Linked DNA regions of Homo sapiens: regions 1, 2, 3, 4 and 6 are each reported to be linked to region 5. The links are microRNA targets in miRTarBase. Many come from high-throughput screens and were not tested one by one. Region 5 holds a microRNA gene; each other region holds the end of a gene's coding sequence.

Region 1 (4,103 bases), not on the chromosome of region 5:
AGCCAGGTGAAGGAGGGTTCAATGATTTAAAAAAAAAGTGAACCACAGACCAGATGATAATGTGTATGGTACCAGGAATGGCAAGATCACTGTAAAAACAAGCTTTAGGAGAAGAGATTCCGTAGAGGGTCTATCAAGATGTGAAACTTAAGGAAAAAAAATAGTTGGAATACCTTAGAATGTAAAACTATTACTTTCAAATTGGGTTCCATGGTAACCCACATCTTAGTTGTACGTCATGCTTGCTAAGACACCTGTTCCTGTGCTGTAGCAATCTCTACATAAGGTCTAGGTGTCTGGTTTTTATGCCCCAGATGACTTGTAAACTAAATTGTGAGGACTAGTAGCTTAGAGGCAAAATTCAGCTTCATCTAGGAGGTACCATGGTGGTGTAGAAAAGGAAGGATTTTATGGTTACTCTAGGTTCAAATCCCAGTTCCATTTCTAAGCTGAATGCCCTTGGACACATGACTTAACATCTGATTAATTTCCTTCTGCCTCATAGGATCATTATATGAATGAAATACACTTTGCCAGGCACTGGATGATTAGTAGTCTCCACAAGCTGCTGCCATGGTATGGAGCTAGAATCAATCTGCCCTAAATGCTTCCTAAACTGGGCGAGACCACTGCAGTCACTTGCTGGTTCTAGCCATGAGTGTGAGTAGCTGAGCAGGCCTCTGCCAAGCTTATGACCAGGGCCTGTTGCTTTGCTCAGTTCTCTCCACTGTCCCAGAATTTTGGTACCTCCAGCTCTGTGTGGACTGTAAAGCAGCTTCCCTTGACTCTAGTGAGCACAGCCTCTGGCCACGATAAATCTGAAAGACTAGCTACACTGATTTCTGTGATCCCAAAATGTTGGGATCACAAGTGTAAGCCACTGTGCCAGGCCTCCACTGCCTCAGTTTCTGTTGTATGTCCTAATTATGTGACTAACTGCATCTACACAGGTGGTTCCAACAAGCATCAGGAAAAATGAACATTTATCACGCAACCCACAGGAAGCACAATGCACTAAACTTCCACATAACCACCCAGTAAATGAGAGGACTTCCTATTCCTAATCACAGCCTCATTTTCAACCATCATCCTCATTCTCAAGTATGAGGAAATGGAATTTCCTTGATCCAGACAGACTCCTAAGGCAAGATTTCTAGTTCCACCTGTTAATAACCAGATGTGTGGTGCTGGTTATGTCACTTCTCATCTCTAAGCCTGCAAAGTCGGGGGTAAGACTTGGTTCATCTCTAAAATAGGTCTTTAAATTCTAATGGATTTTATAAGGCACCCTTCAACTTCCAATTGAGCCTTCCAATCATTTATATTGCTGTGGCAGTGAGCTTAACCAGTGAACCTCTAAATAGGCCATACAGAATGGGCTCTCTTCCAGTTTGATACCAGCGATTTCTTCAACACAGGGAGAAAGTAGCAGAAAATTGGTATTAGTGGGATTTGTAATTATCAGGGCAGTTCCTATTGAAGGTTTTGTTACTGTGTCATGGCTGATTAGACCTGTCTACTCTGGTTTTTGGATAGTCCCCAAGGGCAACTGGGAGGCAAGGGCACAGAAGGGGTAGGAAACAAGAAAAAACATCAGTGCTTTGGACAGCAGAGCCCCTCAGGATAAGAATGAGCTTGATCATAGAAAGTAAGAGTTAAAGCCAGCATAGAATGCTTAAAGTTACATTTTACTTCGAGTAAGAGCAGATAATCTAGGATTCATCTGAAAACAGAAGAGCCTCAAGGTTTTCTGAAGTGGATTCCGTCATGGCTCCTCGTGGCTTCTTGGAATTAAAAAACATGGCCACTACCAAGGAAATGAGGAATAATTTTAAAGATGCTTACTTGGAGAAAGAAAGTATACATTGATCTAGAGTGACAGTTCTCCAGCTTAAAAAAAAAAAAAAGTGTTCCTTTTATGTTGACTCAAAATTTTATTTTTGAGACAGGGTCTCACTCCTGCACAGGCTGGAGTACAGTGGTACAAACATAGCTCACTACAGTCTTGACCTCCTGGGCTCAAGCTATCCTCCTGCCACAGCCTCCTGAATAGCTGGGACTACAGGTGCGCATCACCACACCTGGCTTGTTTTTAAATTTTTTGTAGAGACAAGGTTCTCACCATATTACCCAGGCTGGTCACAAATTCCTGGAATCATGCAATCCTCCTGCTTCAGCCTCCCAAAATGTTGGGATCACAAGTGTAAGCCACTGTGCCAGGCCTCAAAATACTAAAATAAATGACCAAAAAAAAAAAAAAAAAAACATCAGCTGGTTGCAGTGGCTCACACCTATAATCCGAGCACATTAGGAGGTAGAGGCGGGAGGATCGCTTGAGCCCAGGAGTTACAGACCAGCCTGAGCAACAAAGACCCCATCTCTACAATAAATACAAAAATTAGTGGGCTGGGCACGGTGGCTCATGCCTGTAATCCCAGCACTTTGGTAGGCCAGCAGGCAGACCACGAGGTCAGGAGTTTGAGACCAGCCTGGCCAGCATGGTGAAACCCCGTCTCTACTAAAAATACAAAAAAAAATTAGCCCGGCATGGTGGTGCACACCTGTATTCCCAGCTACTCGGGAGGCTGAGGCAGAAGAATCACTTGAACCCAGGAGGCGGAGGTTGCAGTGAGCCGAGATCATGCCACTGTACTCCAGTCTAGGTGACAGAGCGAGACTCCGTCTCAAAAAAAAAAAAAAAAAGCCAGGCATGGTGGTGTGTGCCTGTAGTCCCAGCTACTTGAGAGGCTGATGTGGGAGGATCACGTGAGCTAGGGAGGCAGAGGTTGCAGTGAGCCAAGATCATGCCACTGCACTGCAGCCTGGATGACAGACTGAGACACTGTCTCCAAAATTAAAAAAAAAAAAAAAGTTAGTTTAGAATATGCTTCTTCCAGTTTCACATGGCCCACTGGAAAAAAGCTAACAATTATCTGTAAGAGGAGTGAGACAAGATGCTGACTTTGGGGCAGAGTGAAGCAAATAAGCAGTCTTTTGCATGACGAGAGACTTGAAGATACAGAGGATGGCAGTGCATTTAGGGTTTAATTTAGGCTGCAGCTTGGGGAAGAAAATCAGTGGTCATCACTGCCTTTTGTCCACACTGTATCACTAAGCAAAGCTCCTGAGAACAAACTGCTGGGATAGTCATGACCCTCTCTTGGAGTGGATGAATTCTAGGGACAGGTGCCATAAGGAAAGGCTGCAACCCCCACAACAGAAAATACATATTTATTATAAAATAAAGTTAGTTTCATGAAGAGAGTAGAAAAATAACACTATGAGCTACTAAAAAAGTTGTGGAACTCAGTCTCCGAGGATTGGGGTGAGAGGCTTTCACATCACTCTGGAAACCCACCAACATGAGGCTCTCCGTGCTCATGTGGGACAGGTATAGCACAGCTCGTACAGGGAGCATGTGGCTCAGGTCCTGCTTGAAGCCCAAGGAGCCTAGATGGTCCACACGAGATGCTCTGGCCACGGTGATCAAGGAGGAGAACTTGAGGTCAGCAGGGGACTGGTTCTGAGAAGGGGCAGGATGGGAATAACCTTGCCCCTCCCTATACTGGAGTGTAGAAGAGTCTCTTGGGCTGATGGTCCTGGTTTAGAAGATGGTACCCACTGGCCTTATGCTGAGTTGCTTGCCCAAATGTCTGTGCTGAAGAAAAGCCACACAGCCTTTCTCAGGACAACTTGCCCCACCAATTCTCACTGGTGTGGCTAAAGTACCAGAAGCAATATGTGTGGTGTCAGCCTGATGGGCTGCTGGCTGAAATTCTGTACTTCAAATCCTGTCCATACGATGGCAGAAAGAAAGAAAATGTTAAAAGACCAGTGAATGAGAGCAGCTGGCCTCGACTGTTCTATATTCCAAGCCTCCTGGCCCCAAAGGATAGGGAGAGTATCTTCCCTGAGTGGGAAACGATCTACCTACCCTAAACAGGAAAGGCAATCCCATAGCCACCCCTTCCTCCCTCTAGAAAAAAGTCTTCTAGACCCCTTAGGCTTCAGAAGAATACTGAATCCCTCCCTGGGATGGGAACCCAACCCTCTAGTGATGAGAAATGGTCCCTCAGCAGCAGTACCTGGAGAAAGCAGCCAAG
Region 2 (4,086 bases), not on the chromosome of region 5:
TAATCCCAGCTACTAGGGAAGCTGAGGCAAGAGAATCACTTGAACCCGGGAGGTGGAGGTTGCAGTGAGCCAAGACCATGCCACTGCACTCCAGTCTTGGCGACAGAATGAGACTCTGTCTCAAAAATAATAATAATAATTAGGATTCGTGATTATTAATTTGAAAAATGTTTAGTCAGTATAGTCTGCAAACTGAAGTTTCATGATGGAACAAATGCCAGGCTTTGGGGGTAAGCTTTTTCCCCTGCATCTCTACCTGGTGGAGGTAAAGTCCACATGGGAACAACTTTCAGGAGTTTTCAAGCCCTCAACTGTAAGACACCAAGTCTATCATTGATGATGTCTTCTCTTTGAAGGAATTAGGCCTTGGTATCATCGTGGAAGACGTCTATCATTAGGCGAAATTTAGAAAGATGAGAATTATCTTGATTGCCAAAATTTTCCCGATGAGAAATCAACCTCGATTTTTAAAAGTAAACTTTTTGAGGTAACTGCAGATTCCCTTTTATTTGTAAGAAATAATACAGAGAGATTTGTGTAGCCTTTTACCCAATTTCCTTTAATGGTAACTGTTATGCAAAACTATAGTATAATATCACAATCAGCATATTGGTGTTGCTACAATCAAGACAGAACATTCCATCACTGCAGGATCATCCCTCCTGCTGCCCTTTTAAAGCCACACCCACCTCCCTCCTCCCTGGCAACCACTATTCCATCCTTTGCGTCTATAAATGTTCCCTTTCAAGAATCCTGGCTGGACGCGGTGGCTCATGCCTATAGTCTCAGCACTTTGGGGGGCCAAGGTGGGTAGATCACCTCAGATCAGGAGTTCCAGACCAGCCTGGGCAACATGGTGAAACCCTGTCTCTATGAAAAATACAAAAATTAGCTGGGCATGGTTGCACGCACCTGTAGTCCCAGCTACTCTGGAGGCTGAGATGGGAGGATTGCTTGACCCTGGGAGGCAGAGGTTGCAGTGAGCCGAGAGCGTGCCACTGCGCTCCAGCCTGGGTAACAGAGTGACAGCCTGTCTCAACAAAAAAAAAAAAAAAAAAAAAGAAAAGAAAAAGAATGTTATATAAATGGAATTATACATGTCACATTTGGGGACTGGCTTTTTCTGCTCAGCATAATTCCCTGGAAATTCATCTAGCAGACCTAGATAGTTTTGTTGTTGTAGTAACATGAAGTGGATCTATTCCTCTGGTCATACCATTCCAAATCTAAATTTTTATGCAGGGAATAGAGGTACACTGTTTTGGGGGATATTTATCTTAAGGGATCTCAAACAATTTTTTGAATTGTTAACATGAGACTGTCTTCTTTCAAAGAGCCTGTGTACCATCCAGAAAGACTGAGTAGGGGGCCAATATTATATTCCAGACTCTATTTTTACTCAGATAGAACTGAACATATGGGGTACAGTAGTGGTACAGTTTATCACTAGATACATTTTAGTTTGCCTTTTTGTCTTAAATGTCTTAAATGTAAAAATTTAAAGAAAAATAGATATTCCTATGGGGGCTTTTTAAATTTCTTTAAACTGCTATGGACAGACTTGTAATTTTTTTTTTTTTTTTTGAGACGGAGTCTTGTTTTGTCGCCCAGGCTGGAGTGCAGTGGTGTGATCTTGGCTCACTGCAACCTCCATCTCCTGGGTAAAAGCAATTCTCCTGCCTCAGCCTCCCAAGTAGCTGGAATTACAGGTGTGCACCACCAATGGCTGGCTAATTTTTGTATTTTTAGTAGAGATGGGGTTTTGCAATGTTGGTCAGGCTGGTCTCGAACTTCTGACCTCAGTAATCCACCTACCTCGGCCTCCCAAAGTGCTGAGATTAGAGGCGTGAGCCACCACGCTCAGCCTTGCCATTGATTCTTAATAACCTGTTTTTATTTCACCAGTAACATTAACTTATTGTAACAGAACAGATGAGCCAAAAGAACAAACAGCTGTTCAAATCTGTACACATATTACCAGGGCTAGACTTTCTAAAAAGTCAAAAAACAACAGATGTGGAGAAAAGGGAATGCTTATACACTATTGGTGGGAATGTAAATTAGTACAACCTCTATGAAAAACAGCACGGAAATTTCTCATGGAACTAAAAATAGAACTACCATTCTACCCAGCAATCCCACTACTGGGTATCTTCTTAAAGGAAAATAAATCATTCTATCCAAAAGATACCTGCACTTGTATATCTATTGCAGCACAATTCACAAGAGCAAAGATATGGAATCAACCTAAGTATCCATCAGCAGATGATGGGATAAAGAAAACGTTGTATATGTATACCAGGGGATATTACTCAGCCATATAAAGAGAATGAAATTACGGCTTTTGCAGCAACGTGGGTGGAACTGGAGGCTATTATCTTAAGTGAAACAACTCAGAAAAAAATAAGAAAATAAAGATTTTTAAAGAACCCTCAGAAACAAAAAAAAATACCACATGTTTTCACTTATAAGTGGGAGTTAAACAGGGTGTATACAGGGTCATGGAGTGTGGAATAATAGACACTGGAGGCTTGGAAAGGTGGGAGGGGGTGAGGGATGAGCAATTACCTTTTGGGTACAATGTACAGTATTTTGGTGATGGTTACACTAAAAGCCCAGATTTCCCCACTACACAATATATCCATGTAACAAAACTGCACCTGTGACCAGGTGTGGTGGCTCACACCTGCAACCCCAGCGCCAAGGTGGGCAGATCACCTGAGGTCAGGAGTTCGAGACCAGCCTGGCCAACATGGCAAAACCCCGTCTCTACTAAAAATACAAAAATTAGCCAGCCATGGTGGCAAGCACCTGTAATCCCAGCTACTCGGGAGGCTGAGGCAAGAGAATCACTTGAACCCAGGAGGCGGAGGTTGCAGTGAACCGAGATCACACGACTGCACTCCAGCCTGGGTGACAGAGTGAGACTCCTCAAGAAAAAACAAACAAACAAACAAAAACTGCAACTGTACTCCCTAACTCTATAAAAATAAAAAATACTTTTCTAAAAGAATTTTTTTTTTTATACTTTAAGTTCTGGGATACATATGCAGAACGTGCAGTTTTGTTACATAGGTATACATGTGCCATGGTGGTTTGCTGTACCCATCAACCGGTCACCTACATCAGGTATGTCTCCTAATGTTATCCCTCCCCTAACCCCCTAGTCCCCGACAGGCCCCAGTGTGTGATGTTCCCTTCCCTGTGTCCATGTGTTCTCATTGTTCAACTCCCACTTATGAGTGAGAACATGCTTGGTTTTCTGATCTTGTGATAGTTTGCTGAGAATGATGGTTTCCAGCTTCATCCATGTCCCTGCAAAGGACATGAACTCATCCCTTTTTATGGCTCCATAGTATTCCATGGTGTATATGTGCCACATTTTCTTAAAAAGAACTTTTAAAGACACCTGGTTTAAGCAAGTACAATTGAGTTAACTATGTAGTTTCAGTATACTTCTAAGTACTACAGCTCATGCTAATAGCAAAAATATACATGATACATCAAGTTAACAGTATGCCTCTCCCTCTAAATGTTAGGTCATGATAGCATTTGGAAGTCTTCAAAAGGAAAAATTCCTCATATGCTGTATTCTAAATTCCGTATTTTTCTATCAGCTCCTTTGCTTTAGAAATATAGGCACTCGTCGCATCTTCCGTCGACAACCCTAGAAAGATACAAACAGGTTATCTCCCTGATTGGTGCACTGGGAAATTAAGAAAGTTTGCTTTAAACTTGTGAAAGACTAAAAAACCTTTTTTGAGGTTCCATGCTTCCCATTTGGCTTTGCCTTTTAAATCTAGCATTCCTGGACACGCTGGCAAAAGAAGGAGACATGCATTTGCAGGTTAACATTTTACTGTGCACTTCTATAGACATTGTTCAAACGGAGTATATTACTATATTTTAAGTAATTATATATTATAATCGCAATTAATATATTAATTGTAACATATGAATATATTAATATTAATAATATATAATACCAATATTAATGTCTCCAACTATTGCTTGTTTGTAAAGCCCATAGAGTTCTTTCAGTTCTCCATCATCTGGTCTTGCTTTCAGCTTCCTCACATCTTCTGC
Region 3 (4,106 bases), not on the chromosome of region 5:
GAAAGGTTAAGATGGTAAACTTTATGTGTTTTTTACCACAGTTTAAAAAAAAAAAAAAAGGAAAACAGTATGTTCCACACCATCTGCCATTAGGGAAATGCAAATTAAAATTACAAGATACCATGAAGAAACTGTTGCAAATTAGAGACCAAGGAGACATGGGCAGAGTGACATGGAACCTAAAATGGCTCAGGCAACCTAGTTTTTTAAAAATCTTTTCAATTTATCTTAAAAAATAAAGTGACATTTCCAAATGTCACTAATTAATAGAGAACATTTTGCAACATTTTAATGTTTTGTCATACTTGATAATTTGCAAAAACAAAAACAAAAATATGATAAGACTCTCCAAAATGTCAACATGGCTCTTCATACCAACAGCAAAACGCTGTATTTCCTGTTAAAATACAAGTTAATAAAGAAAATAGAGAAACTAAATACTAACATATCATGTTATTTTAATAACTATTTAAATATGAGGTGTGGTGGCTCACACCTGTAATCCCAGCACTTTGGGAGGCTGAGGCAGGTGGATCACAAGGTCAGGAGATGGAGACCATCCTGGCTAACACAGTGAAACCCCGTCTCTACTAAAAAAAAAAATACAAAAATTAGCCGGGCATGGTGGCAGGTGCCTGCAGTCCCAGCTACTCGGGAGGCTGAGGCAGGAGAATGGCGTAAACCCGGGAGGCGGAGCTTGCAGTGAGCCGAGATCGTGCCACTGCACTCCAGTCTGGGCGACAGAGCGAGACTCCATCTCTAAAAAAAAAAAAAAAAAAAAGAGTAAAACATAATGAAAAGCATATGCTTGCTTGGTGCTAATGACGTTTTACAGTCTTATAGATGAAGCAACATGTGTAATTTCAACCAGATGTTGAAATGGTTTAGGATTAGTATCTAAAGACAAGTATTTCAGAAAATATGTAGAAAGGTAACCATACACTTGCTACAGGGGGTCCTCTATGCAACTGTCTTGACTTTGCACTTTATTTTTCAAAATGAAATTATAATCTGTTCTGAATAACATATATGTTTTAAGTTCATAGAGGGAGTTCAGCATAGTTAAGAGCTCAGGTTTTAGAGTCAGATTTTTGGCTTTATTGCTTACTGGGCTATAGGATCTTGAGAAACTTAAAACTCTCTGAGCCTCGGAGTACTCATTTCTAAAACAAGGATGGTAACAGTTAATCCTGTCCCGTAGGATGTCGTGTTGTTTAGATTAAGATAATACCTGTAAAGTGCTTTCCATGGCATCCAACACATAGTAAGTGCTCAATAAAAGGTAGCTAGTATTATTGTTGCTATTCTTACTACTATTTTTTCATTATTACTGTTAATAAAATAATCACCCTTCAAATCTAAAAACAAAATAAAATAGGTTTAGAGGAAGTGAGCACATGAGAGTAGCAAGGATAGGTTGTGGTCAGAGAGCAGAGTACTGGATTTCAGAGGTGGAGTGGATGACATCCAGGCTGTGGTATGGGAGTTTGTGGCTAAAGTGCAGGAAAGGTAAAGGTCACTGTCTGGAGTTGAGGTTAAGGAACTGTAAGGTTATGGTTTCTCATCCACATGACGGTTAATTATCTCTCAGAATGAGGACGGGAAACAAGGTAGAGAGGAAGAATTGGTTGCGAAGACTTCACTGGATACAGGAAAATAACTGGGAAGAAGGTAACACAGCCCCATCCTGGGCCTTCCTGGGACCCCCACCCCTCTTTTTCCCAGTTCTTGCTAGCTCACATCTAACCTACTTTGCCTTGCAAATAAGGAGATCAGAAAAAAAGCAAAACAAACAAACAAACCAAACAAAAACAAAAACATACAAACAAAAAAAAACCTGCCCTACTATCCTACTATCATCTCCCGGTAGCACCTCACGAACCTGCCTTGGGCACCTACTAAGTGCAACTTTTTGTAGATAATACAAGAAGGTTAACACAACTCCTGTCCCAACACCTTTTAATACAGTTGAATGGATAAAAACATGGATACAAACACATGGATATAGGTATCATTGAAGCAGTGTGACATAAAATAACATCTATATATACAACACTCCTCTGCAAATAACAAATGTAAAGTAAAAGATACCCAACAAATCATTTTGTTTATCTTGCTATCATTTCTTAATCTATAACGTCTCCCTCCCATGTATCCATGCAAGGAAGCAGTATCAGCTGCCCGACTAGAGGGTAGCTCCCTCCCTTGGGTTACTTTTTTTTTTTTTTTTTTTTGTAGAGACAGAGTCTCACTCTGTCGCCCAGGCTGGAGTGCTGGAGTACAGTGGTGCAATCTCAGCTCACTGCAACCTCCACCTCCCGAGTTCAAGCAATTCTCCTGCCTCTGCCTCCCAAGTAGCCGTGACTACAGGGGTATGCCGCCACACCTGGCTAATTTCTTTTGTATTTTAGTAGAGACAGGGTTTCACCATGTTGCCCAGGCTGGTCTCAAACTCCTGAGCTCAGGCAATCTGCCCGCCTCTGCCTCCCAAACTGCTAGGATTACAGGCGTGAGCCACCGTACCCGGCCACCCTTGGGTTACTTGAGACCCTACTTTCATTTGGATCTGAGCTGTCCTACCCACTCACTGCAATCTGGCTTTTCCTTCTTTGAGTATAAAGTCGATACGGGATGGCTCGCCTACAGCTTCAGTGTTTGAAGTAAAGAAAGCTTTATGCAGATTCTGGCTTTTAATGGGTCTCCTCTGACAGTAGAAAGATTCAAACCACAGCCAATTCCAAGAACCCTTCTAAGAACAGAGACAGAGTCACTTCAAAGGATCTGACTTGCTATACCTAAATATAATTCATGGTGCTTTTCCTATGACACACCATAATATTTTGTCCAAAAATCTTGCAACATGTTATTAACTTTGAAGAAAGAATAAAAGCAGCCACTTTAGAGACTGGAGACACTCAAGCACTCATCTATTCATAAAGTTTCTACACAGCTGAAGAAGTTTGCATCAAGTGGACAAAAAATAGTACAGAAAACCTAAATACAGAAAAATTCAGAAAACTCCATCTCCTAGAAAGCAGGGCAAGGCTGGGCACGGTGGCTCACTCCTGTAATCCCAGCACTTTGGGAGGCCTAGGTGGGTGGATCATTTGAGGTCAGGAGTTGGAGACCAGCCTGGCCAACATGGTGGAACCCGTCTCTACTAAAAATACAAAAATTAGCCAGGCGTGGTGGCACATGCCTGTAATCCCAGCTACTCAGGAGGCTGAGGCAGGAGAACTGCTTGAACCCGGGAGGCGGAGGTTGCAGTGAGCCGAGATCGCACCACTGCACTCCATCCTGGGCGAAAGAGCAAGACTTTATCTCAAAAAAAAAAAAAAAAAAAAGAAAGCAAGTTAAATGGACTCAGTTAAAGACCTCACTGAATGTAGGAGAATCAATGGGAAACAACGTAAAGCCTTCTGCTAGGGCATAAATAGGAATCCGTCTATGTAATCAAGAAATTACTTTGCCTCCTGATCTAAATGCTTGCCTCTAGTCTAGGGCTTAGAAAAAGGCCTGGTTATTTGAACTGGTTGTCAATCAAGGTCCCCTTCATTTTCGCTTTCTTGGCTTCCAATTCAGCCTAGAAAGAAAAAAAAAGCATATGTCTTGATACATGACATGAAATTATTTTCCTTCCTTATTCTAACCAACCCAAACACTCTCCCTTAATGTTCATTTAGTGTACAAACTAGAATCATGGTTCCCAAATCATTATATACCTCTAACATCTACTTTCCAACCTTTCTGATGTTATAGCACATACACAAAAAATGCTATTTGTAGGCAAAATGGGCAAAAAGACAAGGCTGTGGCCACAGGAAATCAGCGCAGGGATTCCAGCAGCCCCAGCGCCCCCCACAGGCTGAGGGAACCAATACTGTGGCATACCAGTATGCTATTCTTGGCAGAACAGGAAGAACATCATTCTACAACAGTGCTACTTAAAGTTATATGGTCTATGAACTATTTGTTATTGGTCCACACAAAATATGTACAAAAATGGATAGTAAGCATTTAGAAGCTTTTATAGCAATTTGACACAATAGTAATTTTTAAAATCTGATAAAAATTGAGACAATTCATTTTTATTGTATTTTATAAAT
Region 4 (4,106 bases), not on the chromosome of region 5:
CACTCCCGGCTAATTAAAAAAAAAAATTGTAGAGAAGGGGGTCTTGCTATGTGGTCCAGGCTGGTCTTGAACTCGTGGGCTCAAGTAATCCTCCAGCCTCAGCCTTCCAGAGTGCTGGGATTACAGGTGTGAGCCACCGCGTCCAGCTATATTTCCTTTTCTAGAAGTGTTCTCTCGGACTGCTGACAGGTCCACCATAAAAGATTGTTCCCGTATATGAAGTTCTGAGTGACTACCATATGCCAACCACTCTATATGGATTTTCTTATTTGACACTGTGAGGTAAGCACTTTTATTACTTCTGTTTTATAGATTACAAAACCAAGCTCAGTGAGGTTTGCTAATGTGCTCGACATACAGTCAGTAAGAGACACCTGAAGGGCCAGTAGCAATGGAGGAACAGGAGACCCTAAGAGAAAAATGCTGATGCAATTAGACTTTACCTAGTCTCCCCCACCTTCCAGACTGGAGCCCTGACACAAAGACTTTGTCAGACAAGCACACAGAGGGGAAGATTTCACTTTATTGTTACATCAGTCTCACAAATGAACCCAACACAGCCAGAAACACTGAAAGGATAAAGTGCCAATGCAGAGAGGCCTGGCAACAGGAGGAGGGAGGAATCCAGTTCGTCTCCTCCACGTCCCCAGCCTGGCAATATATTTCTATTACACAAGAGTGAGGGCAGCTGACATACCAGGCAACCCATTGTATAGACACTTTGAGCTAAGAAATAGAAAATTGTACCAGGTAGGGTCTGTGCAGGGCAAGAAAATAGAAAGAAGTCAGAAAATGTTATTTTCCCGAGTCAGGCATGGAAATATCAAATGATAAAACCAATATTTTTCAAACTCTGTTATTTGAGATAGACATCTAATAAGGAATGAGACAGGTCTGGTGCTTCATGCTACTGCCTATTTTCAGAACTATGACACCCTTTCTCCCACACCCTCAATGTAAGGTACCAGAATTTTTTAGGACTCCTGGGAAAAACTGACCTCACCTTCTTACCTTCTCAGCCCCCAAAAATTAGACCCAGTGCTCCCTCATGCACATCAAGGAGATATGAGCTAGGAGAATAATCAACTTGGAGGCATTTAAAGAAAGTGAATGAAGGCCGGGTGCGGTGGCTCACGCCTGTAATCCCAGCACTTTGGGAGGCTGAGGTGGGCGGACCACAAGGTCAGGAGATCGAGACCATCCTAGCTAACACGGTGAAACCCGTCTCTACTAAAAATACAAAAAATTAGCCAGGCGTGGTGGCAGGTGCCTGTAGTCCCAGCTACTTGGGAGGCTGAGGCAGGAGAATGGCATGAACCCGGGAGGCGGAGCTTGCAGTGAACCGAGATCGTGCCACTGCACTCCAGCCTGGGCAACAGAGTGAGACTCTGTCTAAAAAAAAAAAAAAAAAAAGAATAAACCAGCAGGAACCTTCAACATGCCTCACTGTGGCTAAGAGTCAAGGCTCAGAGTAGAACTTTCAAGTAGGGAAGTAAAGGGTGAGCTTTACTTCAACTTAGTACCAGGATAAGAGGCAGGCCAAAGTATTGCCATGAAAGGTAGGGAAGGAGCATGGAGAGGCCTCAGTGGAAAGGTACAAATCCCCGCTAGGTAAGAGAATGGGGTGTTGCTAGAGGGAGTGCTGAAGGCTGGTAACCCCGGGATCACCCCTCATGAGCTTTAGATATAGCCTCCCAACCATGGCTGTGCTTAGCTTCCTATCTAGCTTCTTTAGGTAGAGGCTGATAGGAAGGGGGCCTAGGGAATGACCCCATGACAACTGACTGCAGTATGGCTGCCTAGTTGTTCAAATGATAGTCACCAAGTTCCTAGGCTTTAGGGAGCTTCTGTGAGGCCCAAATCATTCAGAGTTCCAAAGGGCTGTTCAGTAGGGGCAGTTGCTGAACACCAGACAAGGTAGTTGGTAGTACTTGGCAAAGTTCAAAGTGGGATCCTTTAAACAAACACTCTGAGAACTACTGCTATGACACAGGGTAGACTTGGGAATATCTTAAAGGGATACCCACAGCTAGCTATTTTTCTGACTTGTCCAAGCACTTCTATGACCAAACTGAAGGGGAGATTCCATTATAGACACCTGTGTGCCTAATGTGACACCCCAGTCAAAAAGCTTCAAGAAACCTTGTATTCTCCCCAACCTTTGACAGGGGTCAGGAAATACTGGGCAGTTATAAAAAGTTGTCCTTAACATTGCCGGCTCCTGCTCTGCCTCTTTCCTTGTATCAGGACAGAACTGAACATCTCAATTCCCTGCCTGAAAATGTCATTCCCTGCCTCCCAGAAAGGTTTATCTAGATAGGCCTCTCCACCAACTGATTCTACTCAGTCTACTCCCTTCTATTCTGGCCTTGCTCTTTTTTTCCCCCCATCTTTCTCTACTCCTGGTTTCCAGCTACTTCAGTCCTTGACAGACACATAATAGGATGGGCAGAAATGCTGATCGGATCTTGGGAGTAATCAACGTCTGACAGTGACACTCTGATTTACTTAAGCCTTCAATTCCATATCAGAGAGGGATTAATATTCCTCTGTCTGTGGTTCCTCCTTTCCTCCAAGAGGTTCACAGTGAGAAACCATTTCATTCATCTTTGTACGCTCGTTTTTAGGCACCAAGATGAGGGCCTAAATGTGACAGTTTGGGGCAAGGAACTTTTACTGGGCTTGGCACACAGGAGGGAGAGCTACCCAAATCATCCTAGCATCCATCTCCAGAGAATATTCCTCCCATGCTCTGCCTTTTTTTTTTTTTTTTTAACACATTCTCACCTCTTTGCCCTCCTGTTAAAGGCTTGAATACAAATGAGGCAGCATGGGAGTCTTGGCTTGGAAATCAGGTCTGCGTTCTTGGTCCCTTCAGTCACTGACCTAATATATGAACTTAGACAATTCACTTGCCTCTCTGGACCTTTAAATGAAAGAGTTAAACTGTAATGGATAATGTCCCTGGGCTCTTTCACATAATCCATACTTGAGAAATCAATGAATCAATTTGAAGAAACTCTAATTCTAAGACATAGGTATCCTGGCACCTGTTTGAAACAGCTGAAAGGAGGTAAAGGTCAGGTTCCTGTTTATTATACATTTAGCTATAGGAAAAGAAGCACATATATCTATGGAGACACAGAACCTGGCAGCCCCTATACTTGACTAATAAAAGCAAATTCCTGGAAGAAGCAGAGAAATAGGCCACAAGTGAGACTGGCAGTGTCAAAAAAGGTCTATAAGTTAAGTGATCAAAGTAGTAAAAAACAATGGCCATAACCAGACAAGATCTCTAAGCATAGACTATAGTCTAGAGAGGTCTGAATGGGAAGGAGCCCCTGGAGCTTCTATTAGATGGAAGGACTTGGTCCACAGCAAGTCACTACGGCATTTGGTTCAAACCCAGTTTTCTCTATCTGTCAACCCGGTGTGTATGCATGCACACGTGCAGACATGCTGCAGGCTGTAGTTATGCTTCTGAAGTGCTGAAATGAGAAATAAATATCAGGAGAAATAATGCCAAATTCAAAAAAAGTTAAGCTGAAGGCAAGTAAAATTTTGCTTTCAAAGCTAGTCATTTCCCTACCACTCTGTGTGGCATCACCATTGCTCATTCTGATGTGTGCACTACAGAGTTTTGTGGGGTGATGAACTCTGGGTGTGGGGAAGGGTGGATTTGTAGTATAATTGAAAGCCAAAGACAGGATACAACCCCATGTCCTGTCTGAGAACCACCACCACCCTGCTCGCAGCTGATGACAAATGGATGTGACTTGATCTGACCCATTTGGGCACTCACTTGTCTTCATTCAAAGAGACTGTCTCCACAAAAGGGATTTCTTCCTTGTCTGTCTTCCCCATGATCAGCCGGTGCTTATCCAAGTTTATGATGCACTGAAAACAGGTAACTTGTCAGTGATACCACTATGAGTTCCTGTGTAAGAGGATACCTGCCTCAGAGAGGAAGTATCAAGGGGTAAGTGGAGTCAATCTTACCTTCAGAGATCGGAGAGTCTGTAGACCAAGGGACAAGTTTTTCTCATTGTCATCTAATAAAAACAAAAAAATGATTAAGATTTAGCCATTTCCATGCTTGCTTAGAA
Region 5 (4,106 bases):
GGATACTTAGGCGTGAGCAGCTTACCTTGTAACCTTCTGAGGTCCAAGGGGTCAAGTGCAGCCACCGCATCAGAGACCCTGGAGGGTCGGCTGATGCCCGCACTGTTCACTGCCCTCACTCGGAATATGTAAGACCTTCCTTCAAAAAGCCCTGTGACCGGGTATTTGCAGATTTTCACCGGTGCATCATTGCACTGCACCCAATTATTCGTTCCTACTTCACATCTTCAAGTTAAAAAAAGAAAAACAACAGAGAATAGCAAATGTGGCAACCTACTAAATATACATAGGTATATGCATATATGCACACACTGATTATAACAGGACAATATCTCACGCCAGTAAAATCTTTGCTGCTAAGATATTGACTTGTATAGATAAACATTAGAAGACAGAGCTATTTAGAAAATGCAATATATATATTATATGTAATATCTATTATATATGTAATATATGCCCATGAATCTTAATAATTTATAGCTGAAGATCAATTTCTGTCATCAAACACATTTAGGCAAAAATCTCCTCAAAAAATTATTTTAGACGCATCCTGAACAGTTCTTGTTCCGACTTACGTGACATAGTCACGGCACCCCTAAGCTGCGGCTTGGCCCGTCTGAGGCCCAGGCTGGGGAAACAGGCTCAGCCCCCTCTGCCTCCAGCTCCCGTCCCACTCTGTGAGACCAAGGGCCCAGGTCCCTGGGAAAGCTGGCTTACAGTCTCCTAGAATAATGTTAGGACATTTCTTTCTAGAATGCCTCTCATGTGGAATTTAGAAGTCTTTTGAAAATATTAATTCCTGACCAGAAACCTGGAAATATAGGAAAGATTAACCTCTGTTTTTCACAGGTTGAAAAATGTAAGAAAAAAACCTTCACATGAAATTCCCAGGAGAAAAGAGCTAGTTCAGAAAATCAGTGTTGGGAGGGAGCACTTCAACCCCAGAGTGGTGCCTTCATCTGGGAAAGAACCAGCTCTCCTCCTAAGTATCCAGCACTTTTAATGAAAGCTGTCTGATCCACATGTCATGGGCTGTTTTAGCCGAAGAGAACAACAGGTCAAAACCAAAAGTCTGATGGGAAAACCTGCAACTTCAGGCAACAGCTGGCAAGTCGTAAGCCCAAAGGAAGGGCAGAGGAGGAGCTGCACCCCCCACTTCCAAATGCACCCTCATTCCCAAAGTGTTCCGTTGCTTTGAATTTCATGTTTGCGCTTTTTGTAATGAGGGGAGGAGCGTGGATTGTTAGCTGAGACAGTGCAGGAAATGGTTTTTGTCAACATGGCGGGAAAACTTATCAGCTGTCCCAGGAGAAAAGAAGATCGTTTTGAGGGTTTGTTTTTCTTGCTGTAGTTGCTTAATTCAAGGTAAGCCCGGAACAGCACTCCCTGCAGAACTGTCTCTAGCATATCAAAATATTAGTTTGATGGCACAGGTCTCAGCCAAACAAGTAGTTTTGTTGGAAGAGAAAAGAGAATTTAATCAGCATAAACAAACAAACAAACAAAAGCCAATTCCCTCATTTTTTCCTAAGATAATCACCTTATTTTTCTGTTTAATATACATATAAAATTTTGCATTTCTACCAGGAACCATCCTTTGTGGTTTTTTTGTTTTGTTTTTTTGTTTTTTGTTTTGTTTTGTTTTTTTTGATGGTGGAGTCTCACTGTGTTGCCAGGCTGGAGTCCAGTGGCGCAATCTTGGCTCACTGCAACCACCGCCTCCCTGGTTCAAGAGATGCTCCTGCCTCAGCCTCCCAAGAAGCTGGGATTATAAGCACATGCCAGCACACCCAGCTAATTTTTGTATTTTTAGTAGAGACAGGGTTTCACCATGCTGGCCAGCATGCTCTTGATCTCCTGAACTTGTAATCCGCCCGCGTTGGCCTCCCAAAGTGCTGGGATTACAGGCGTGAGCCACCGTGCCCAGCCAGAACCATCCTCTTTTACTCTCTGTCTAATTTCTAAATTCATTTTCTTCAACTATAATTTACTCCAAGAACTGGAATTTGTATTTAGGGCATAAATTACATATCCAGTAAACCCACTGGCTCTGTGCAGTACACTTCCCAGGCTCCAAGCGCTGTCCCCAGTACGGGAAGTCAAAGAATTCAAACTCCACTGGCTCCAACGATGACCTAAATGTAAGTTATCAACTCAAACACAAACTCCAGTATTTCGAAGCTCAAGATTTTTCACTTGGAAACAAGAAGAACACCTTATTCCTCAGTAGAGAAAAGGAAAGAACTTTGTTAGAAATGAGCTGGCATTCTTCGCAGCACTTTGTCTCTCAGGAGGGAAGGACAGTTCCAAGCTTTAATTCTGCTAAAGCCAGGGCCCTGTCCGGTACGGGGCACAGCCCGGACCTCAGCAGAACCACAGCGCGGGGCTCAGAGTGAGCCTGAAGACGTTGGTGGGATTGGTTACTGGGTGTGCAACAGGCAAACGAGCCTCCACTTTCAACAAAAAGAAACCCAGTGTGGTTATGCTGGGCTCAGCCTACTTGGCCGTATTTACCAATTACCTAAATAGGAACTTATACAACCAATTAGCCATGTACCTAGAGCCAATCAAAAAATGGGAACGTCAACCTGCATTGAGAAAAATTTCTCAATATATTGTCCATGGTAAGATTCCATGCGGAACGTTCCCATCCCCGGGAGAATGCAAGACGCTCACCGGTCCACAAAATAGCCCATGACGGGGCTCTCAGTGGTGGTGTTGGGCGGCTTCCAGGTCACGATGACGTAGTCCCGGTTGGCGTCGTGGCACTGCAAGTCCATGGGTGCACCGGGGGCCCCTGTGACCAGCGGGTCAGCATCTTGGGGCAGGGAGAGAAAAGGCACACGCCTGTCATTTAAAGGCTGGGGTCACTGCAAAGCCTGTTTACAGCTCCTCCAAGCTCCAATTCTATCCCCTTGATTTGACCACTGTTTAATTCTCATGTTCAAAGTACTAGAATATTTCTTACTCTGGCGGGTTGGTGACAAGAAATATAAAATTATGTATGAATTAAAAAGCTTCAAAACATAGAATCCTTGATAAAACACTGAGTCTACAATTTTTCGTCATTAGATCCTGAATTACAGGTCATCTTCTCTTGGTCCTGCTATGGTGCATAACGGCACGTTGGCAAAAATGTGCGGATGAAACAGTGACAATAATCTGGCATTTCTAACACCTGAGAAATATCACCTGAGATACTCTTCTATTTCAAAATCCTTAGGAAATTGGGCGATTTACTCTTTTCGCCAACTTTGAGCAAATATTTGGGACAATATTGCATCATTCGTTTCTCAGTCTATTGATGACCCTAATGCAATTAGGTTTAATTACAGCTGCATGAAAACCAACAGAGCAACATAGAAAGTTAATACACTGAATGTGAACCTTCTTATCTAAACTATGTATTTATTCAGCAGCCCTGGCTGCCCTGTGACGCATGCTTAGCAGGGTGAGCACTATCCAGTTTCCTGCTCACATATCTTCAGGGTATTAAAAGCTGAGGATTTCCTGACATTGAGCCAAATGGTTTCCTCTCACATTCAAAAGCCTCAGAAAGCGATGAAAATGGTTAAACTCCCCACCTTTGCCTTATTTTCCTCCTGTTGCTGGTGCTGAGTGAGCAAGGCGATTTGAGCCGTGTTGCATTTATTGCCTTTTTATGGGGCGGAGCATCATACCAGCAGGCACATGCAGAAGACGGAAGGGACATTTAACGCCCGCCTAACAACAGCAGTGAAACTTGGCGGGAGTGTCTAACCTCACAGACTCGCAAGCTCAGGCTATCGTGTGGGAAGTGAGGAGGGTGAGATACGTTTGGTTGACATTTCTTCTCTTTCTTTTCAGATGAAATATTCTTTAATGATACAGTCCTTCCTTTAAGCTCTGATCTAATGGATGCAATGGAAAAAGTAATCATGAAGATGTATGGATGCGTCCTGCACCCCACTGGAGCTGGAGGCAGGTGGGAAGGTGAGAACTTGGGCAGCAGGTAAGGATGCCCGGCTGATCGGGATGGAGCCGGGAGCCCGGGGACCCGGAGAGCAGCAGCAGCTACATGGCGCAGGAGCGCTCTGACGCCTTCTTTGTAGGTCAGCTGTGCCTCA
Region 6 (4,000 bases), not on the chromosome of region 5:
AAAACGGACATTGTCTTTGCTCTTTGTGCTTCTTTGGCTTTGCCAGTACTAAAGCTGTGCCTTACAGACCGGGTTTCTCTTCCAGGGATGTGTCTTGGTGAGCTAGTCATTAACCCCCACCAGCAGCACATGGATGCATTCTATTGGGTGATTGACTGGGAAGGGATGATCTCTGTCTCTAGCCTGGTGGGACTTCTTGAAAAGCACTTCTTCCCCAAGTGGCTTCAGGTACACTTTGTTTTGCTTGGATTTCTGGGGGAGGGAACTGGGTGGGGATTAAGTTAATTTTCTGCCAAGGCCTGACTGTAGGTACAATTCCATAATGAAAATAAATTACATGGTAGGGTAGGAATGAGTTAGGTCATCTTCATAGTGGGCACCATTTATTGGACATTTGCCATGTATCAGAAGCTGTTCCAAGCACTTTATTTGCTTTATCTCAGCTCCTCTCAGCAACCCTATGGGGTAGGGGATATGGTATCCCTGTTGTGTAGACATGGAAGCTGAGGCTCAGAGAGTTTACATGCAAGGGCACTTTAGCTACCAGGCTGACTCCAAAATCCATATTCATAAGTGCTAGACTGTTTAGCTACTATAAATCCCTGTAAAGTAGTGTCACTAGCCTGTAGGACCAGGATCAAAACAAAACAAATGGCCACTTCAGAAATCTTGCCTTCATTTGTTGCCACGATGGATGCAAGTAATTTTTCTTTTTGGCAGGTGCTGTGCTCTTGGCTCAGTAACAGCCCAAATTATGAGGAGATCACCAAGTGGTACCTGGGTTGGAAGTCGATGTTCTCAGACCAAGTGCTGGCACATCCATCTGTCAAGGACAAATTTAATGAGGCACTTGATATCATGAACCGGGCGGTGTCCTCCAACGTTGGTAAGTGAGGATTCCCATTTTGGATGTCCTGGCCCCAAGTTTCAGATTTTACACATGTAAATGACACAGAATCAGAGTTTTCTGGTTCCTGTAGGCAGCCTAAACCTTAGGTCACACTTTTGCACATAGCAACAGACTCTCACCCTGCTGACTGGGGTACATGGTCAGCTGGCACCCACTGCCCAGGTCTACCATGACTGAGAGGGGCATCTTCCCTGAGTGGAGACTGACTTAAGCTGGATTCAGATGATGTCAGTCTAACCCCAGGCCCCGCCCTCTTAACCACTGTGCTGTGTGGCCTTTTAAGGCTCATTCATGCCTGAGCATGCTGCTTAGGTGACGCATCTTACAGTGTGGAGTTTGGCACGCGGTCTGACACTTGGTGATTGCTCAGCCTTAATCAGCCCCATTTTACCTGTTAAACAGTAAGATCTACTTTATAGGCTAAAAGGGAGAGTGAGTTCATGCTTGTGTATAGCCTTCAATAGGTGGTGTCTGTGTTGTCAAAAACAGGCAGTTCACTGTTCGTGTACTATATCTGTTCCCAAGTTCTAGGTAAGTCATTCTGCCTAGATCATAAGTAAGTGAGAGTATATTTATGTTTCTACATTTGGGAGCCTATTTCAACCAGTCCTGTGCTCCAGTGTTGCTCATTAGCCGATTCGCAGCATTGAAATGGGATCGTCTAGTCTGTGTTTTACAGATAAGCCCAGCGAGGCTGAGAGCCTGTTCAAGGTCACATAGTTAAAGGGTGGCAGTTAGAACTGGAATTTCTATTTCCTGAGTCTTTAATTCTTGTTATTTAATAGCCTAGGCCAGGCACGGTGGCTCACGCCTGTAATCCTAGCACTTTGGGAGGCCGAGGCGGGTAGATCACGAGGTCAGGAGTTCGAGACCAGCCTGACCAACATGGTGAAACCCCGTCTCTACTAAAAATGCAAAAATTAGCCGGGCGCGGTGGCACATGCCTGTAATGCCAGCTACTTAGGAGGCTGAGGCAGAAGAATCGCTTAAACCTGGGAGGCAGAGGTTGTAGTGAGCCGAGATTGCAAGCACTGCACTCCAGCCTAGGTGACAAGAGCGAGACTCGGTCTCAAAAAAAAAAAAAGAAAAATAGCCTATTCTGTGAAAACAGAGATTAAGTAATAAGGCAAATATACTTCTCTGCTTCTGTAATTATCAAGTTTTTTCTAAAAACTCTTCCTTAGCTACCCTTGGCCTCATGTTTCCAAAACTGTTCCCTGAATATACCCCTCAATTAGCACTTAGCATTTATGGTCTTGGTATTATCCTTTAAACACTCATTTCAGCTCCCTAAATATATGTGAACTTCTTTCAGGATGGGGGCCCTGTGTGGGTAGGTTAAAAATAAAGCCAGTATGGGCCCTATGTTTTCAAGGTACTAAAAGCTGCCTCTTTGGTGGTGGGAAATGGAAACTCTACAGAGCAAGGTGGGAACAGAAGAGTGGCTGAGGACTCTCTGTTAATGTTTCCAGCTCTGAAGGAAGAAATCCCTTGCAGATACTTCATTTTAAAATGTTGAATATTAATAATCTGGTTACTAGATACTAGCCAGGAACCTTCTGAACAGTTTTTATGTGATACTGGCCAGTCGTCTAAACTTCCTCCAAAGTTGTATCTTTGAGGCAGAGCTGCCCTTCAGTGAGTCACAAGCACTCTGGCACACCCAAGACCTGGGCCAAGCCACAGTGTCAACTTCCATACACCTGGAAACACCTCTCCTCACCGCCCTGTCCTCCTGTATCTTAGGTGCCTACATGCAGCCAGGAGCACGGGAGAACATTGCCTATCTCACCCACACGGAGCGGAGGAAGGACTTCCAGTACGAGGCCATGCAGGAGAGGCGGGAGGCTGAGAACATGGCTCAGAGGGGCATTGGCGTGGCCGCTAGCTCTGTGCCCATGAACTTTAAGGACCTCATTGAGACCAAGGCTGAGGAGCACAACATTGTCTTCATGCCCGTCATTGGGAAGCGACACGAAGGGAAGCAGCTCTACACCTTTGGCCGCATTGTGATCTACATCGACCGGGGAGTGGTCTTTGTCCAGGGCGAGAAGACGTGGGTGCCCACCTCACTGCAGAGCCTGATCGACATGGCCAAGTGAACTGTGGCAGGTCCAGAACCAGTCAGAGACTTGCCCCTAAGAGGGATGTACTGTAAATAAACAGTATTTTTAGATCACCTTCAAAAGGGTAACTTCTTTACTCAGGAGCTACTCCACATCAGGCCAGGTCATGAGGGAAGGATGTAAAATGGGACAATGCCACGTAGGGCAGGAATCTTTATACCAAGTCCTCATGTGGGGTATCGTCCTCAAAACAGGACAGCCAAGTTGATGTTCTTTCCTGGCAAAGGAGTTCTCTGTAGTTCCTCCATAGCAGCCTTCCCTTTAGTCTCTGGTGGCAGCTTCTACCTCAGCCAACACTGAGTACCTCACAACGAGTTCAGTCAGTAGCAGAAGGATCTTCTCTCTTGTTCCTGATGATTTCAAGGTCCTCACAGTCCTGATAATCTGGTTCTTCCCGAAACTCCCAAATATCTATGGAGAGCTGTTCTAGCTTTTGCACAGGGAACCAGTGGACAGAGGTATCATTAAATATGTCCATGTATTGTGAAGTCTGAGGAAACTCAAGCTCCTCCAGTCCTTTTAAAATCTGAGCAGAAAAATTCAAGTATAAAAACTTCAGATAGTCACAGTAATCCCCACTCTTCTGGGATAAATTTCCACTTTACTTGTCATCCCCACTTTACTTTTTAAAAAAATAACAAATAGGGTATTTTGATTTAAATGCTTTTGCACAATGAATTGGGCGCCCCAAGGACAGTGGATATCATGGACTGTGATACTAAGAATAAAGGAAATAAGGAAAAAACTAAGAGATGCATTAAAGAGTCATAGCTTTCTGGAACACAGACCCATGGAGAGAGCTGACAGTACACTAGCGCCACTTAGCCCATGAGTTTCCTCCTACGCCTGTAAAGAAAGATAGAATTCTTCACAGTTTCACACCCTTTTCCATCCCAGCCCCTTTATTCAGATAGATACCTTTGCAATGTAGGGATAATTTTTCTGCAGAATCCTTGCCAACAAC

Evidence for each region. The annotated mature microRNA hsa-miR-7160-5p reads UGCUGAGGUCCGGGCUGUGCC and lies in region 5 at 2,350-2,370, opposite strand. An mRNA with a match to its seed (bases 2 to 7 or 8) in the 3' UTR can be bound and repressed. Matches are read on the target gene's strand: a 7mer-m8 pairs with bases 2 to 8, a 7mer-A1 pairs with bases 2 to 7 and ends in A, and an 8mer does both.
Region 1: miRTarBase lists TMEM216 as a target of hsa-miR-7160-5p. Seed matches in the 3' UTR shown: 7mer-A1 at 3,631-3,637.
Region 2: the mRNA of ACBD7 is a reported target of hsa-miR-7160-5p. Seed matches in the 3' UTR shown: 7mer-A1 at 3,280-3,286, 7mer-m8 at 2,835-2,841 and 7mer-A1 at 1,831-1,837.
Region 3: the mRNA of STEEP1 is a reported target of hsa-miR-7160-5p. Seed matches in the 3' UTR shown: 7mer-m8 at 3,223-3,229.
Region 4: the mRNA of NRIP3 is a reported target of hsa-miR-7160-5p. Seed matches in the 3' UTR shown: 7mer-m8 at 1,294-1,300 and 7mer-m8 at 1,161-1,167.
Region 6: miRTarBase lists SRRD as a target of hsa-miR-7160-5p. Seed matches in the 3' UTR shown: 7mer-m8 at 2,839-2,845, 7mer-m8 at 2,355-2,361, 7mer-m8 at 1,878-1,884 and 7mer-m8 at 503-509.

Annotation. Positions count from the first base shown.
Region 1 is chr11:61,397,958-61,402,060 of GRCh38, reverse strand. It overlaps TMEM216 (transmembrane protein 216), which reads right to left. Exons shown (of 5, transcript NM_001173990.3): 4 at 4,086-4,103; 5 at 3,215-3,791. The coding sequence ends at 3,785. Among named protein-coding and RNA genes, the nearest start is that of TMEM216, 7.4 kb to the right of the region's middle.
Region 2 is chr10:15,074,937-15,079,022 of GRCh38, forward strand. It overlaps ACBD7 (acyl-CoA binding domain containing 7), which reads right to left. Exons shown (of 4, transcript NM_001039844.3): 2 at 3,987-4,086; 3 at 3,755-3,817; 4 at 539-3,667. The coding sequence ends at 3,594. ACBD7-DCLRE1CP1 (ACBD7-DCLRE1CP1 readthrough) reads right to left here. Exons shown (of 8, transcript NR_144471.1): 2 at 3,987-4,086. Among named protein-coding and RNA genes, the nearest start is that of ACBD7, 12 kb to the right of the region's middle.
Region 3 is chrX:119,536,207-119,540,312 of GRCh38, forward strand. STEEP1 (STING1 ER exit protein 1) reads right to left here. Exons shown (of 7, transcript NM_022101.4): 7 at 1,943-3,583. The coding sequence ends at 3,521. Among named protein-coding and RNA genes, the nearest start is that of STEEP1, 27 kb to the right of the region's middle.
Region 4 is chr11:8,980,073-8,984,178 of GRCh38, forward strand. It overlaps NRIP3 (nuclear receptor interacting protein 3), which reads right to left. Exons shown (of 7, transcript NM_020645.3): 5 at 4,000-4,052; 6 at 3,803-3,897; 7 at 504-3,488. The coding sequence ends at 3,473. Among named protein-coding and RNA genes, the nearest start is that of TMEM9B-AS1, 17 kb to the left of the region's middle.
Region 5 is chr8:2,074,853-2,078,958 of GRCh38, reverse strand. MIR7160 (microRNA 7160) reads right to left here and starts at 2,370; the gene lies at 2,319-2,370. It overlaps MYOM2 (myomesin 2), which reads right to left. Exons shown (of 37, transcript NM_003970.4): 11 at 2,677-2,818; 12 at 26-225.
Region 6 is chr22:26,491,025-26,495,024 of GRCh38, reverse strand. SRRD (SRR1 domain containing) reads right to left here. Exons shown (of 7, transcript NM_001013694.3): 6 at 3,955-4,000; 7 at 367-3,562. The coding sequence ends at 3,353. It overlaps TFIP11 (tuftelin interacting protein 11), which reads left to right. Exons shown (of 15, transcript NM_012143.4): 13 at 86-228; 14 at 721-886; 15 at 2,657-3,785. The coding sequence ends at 3,012. Among named protein-coding and RNA genes, the nearest start is that of SRRD, 9.1 kb to the right of the region's middle. RefSeq lists an enhancer at 538-1,737.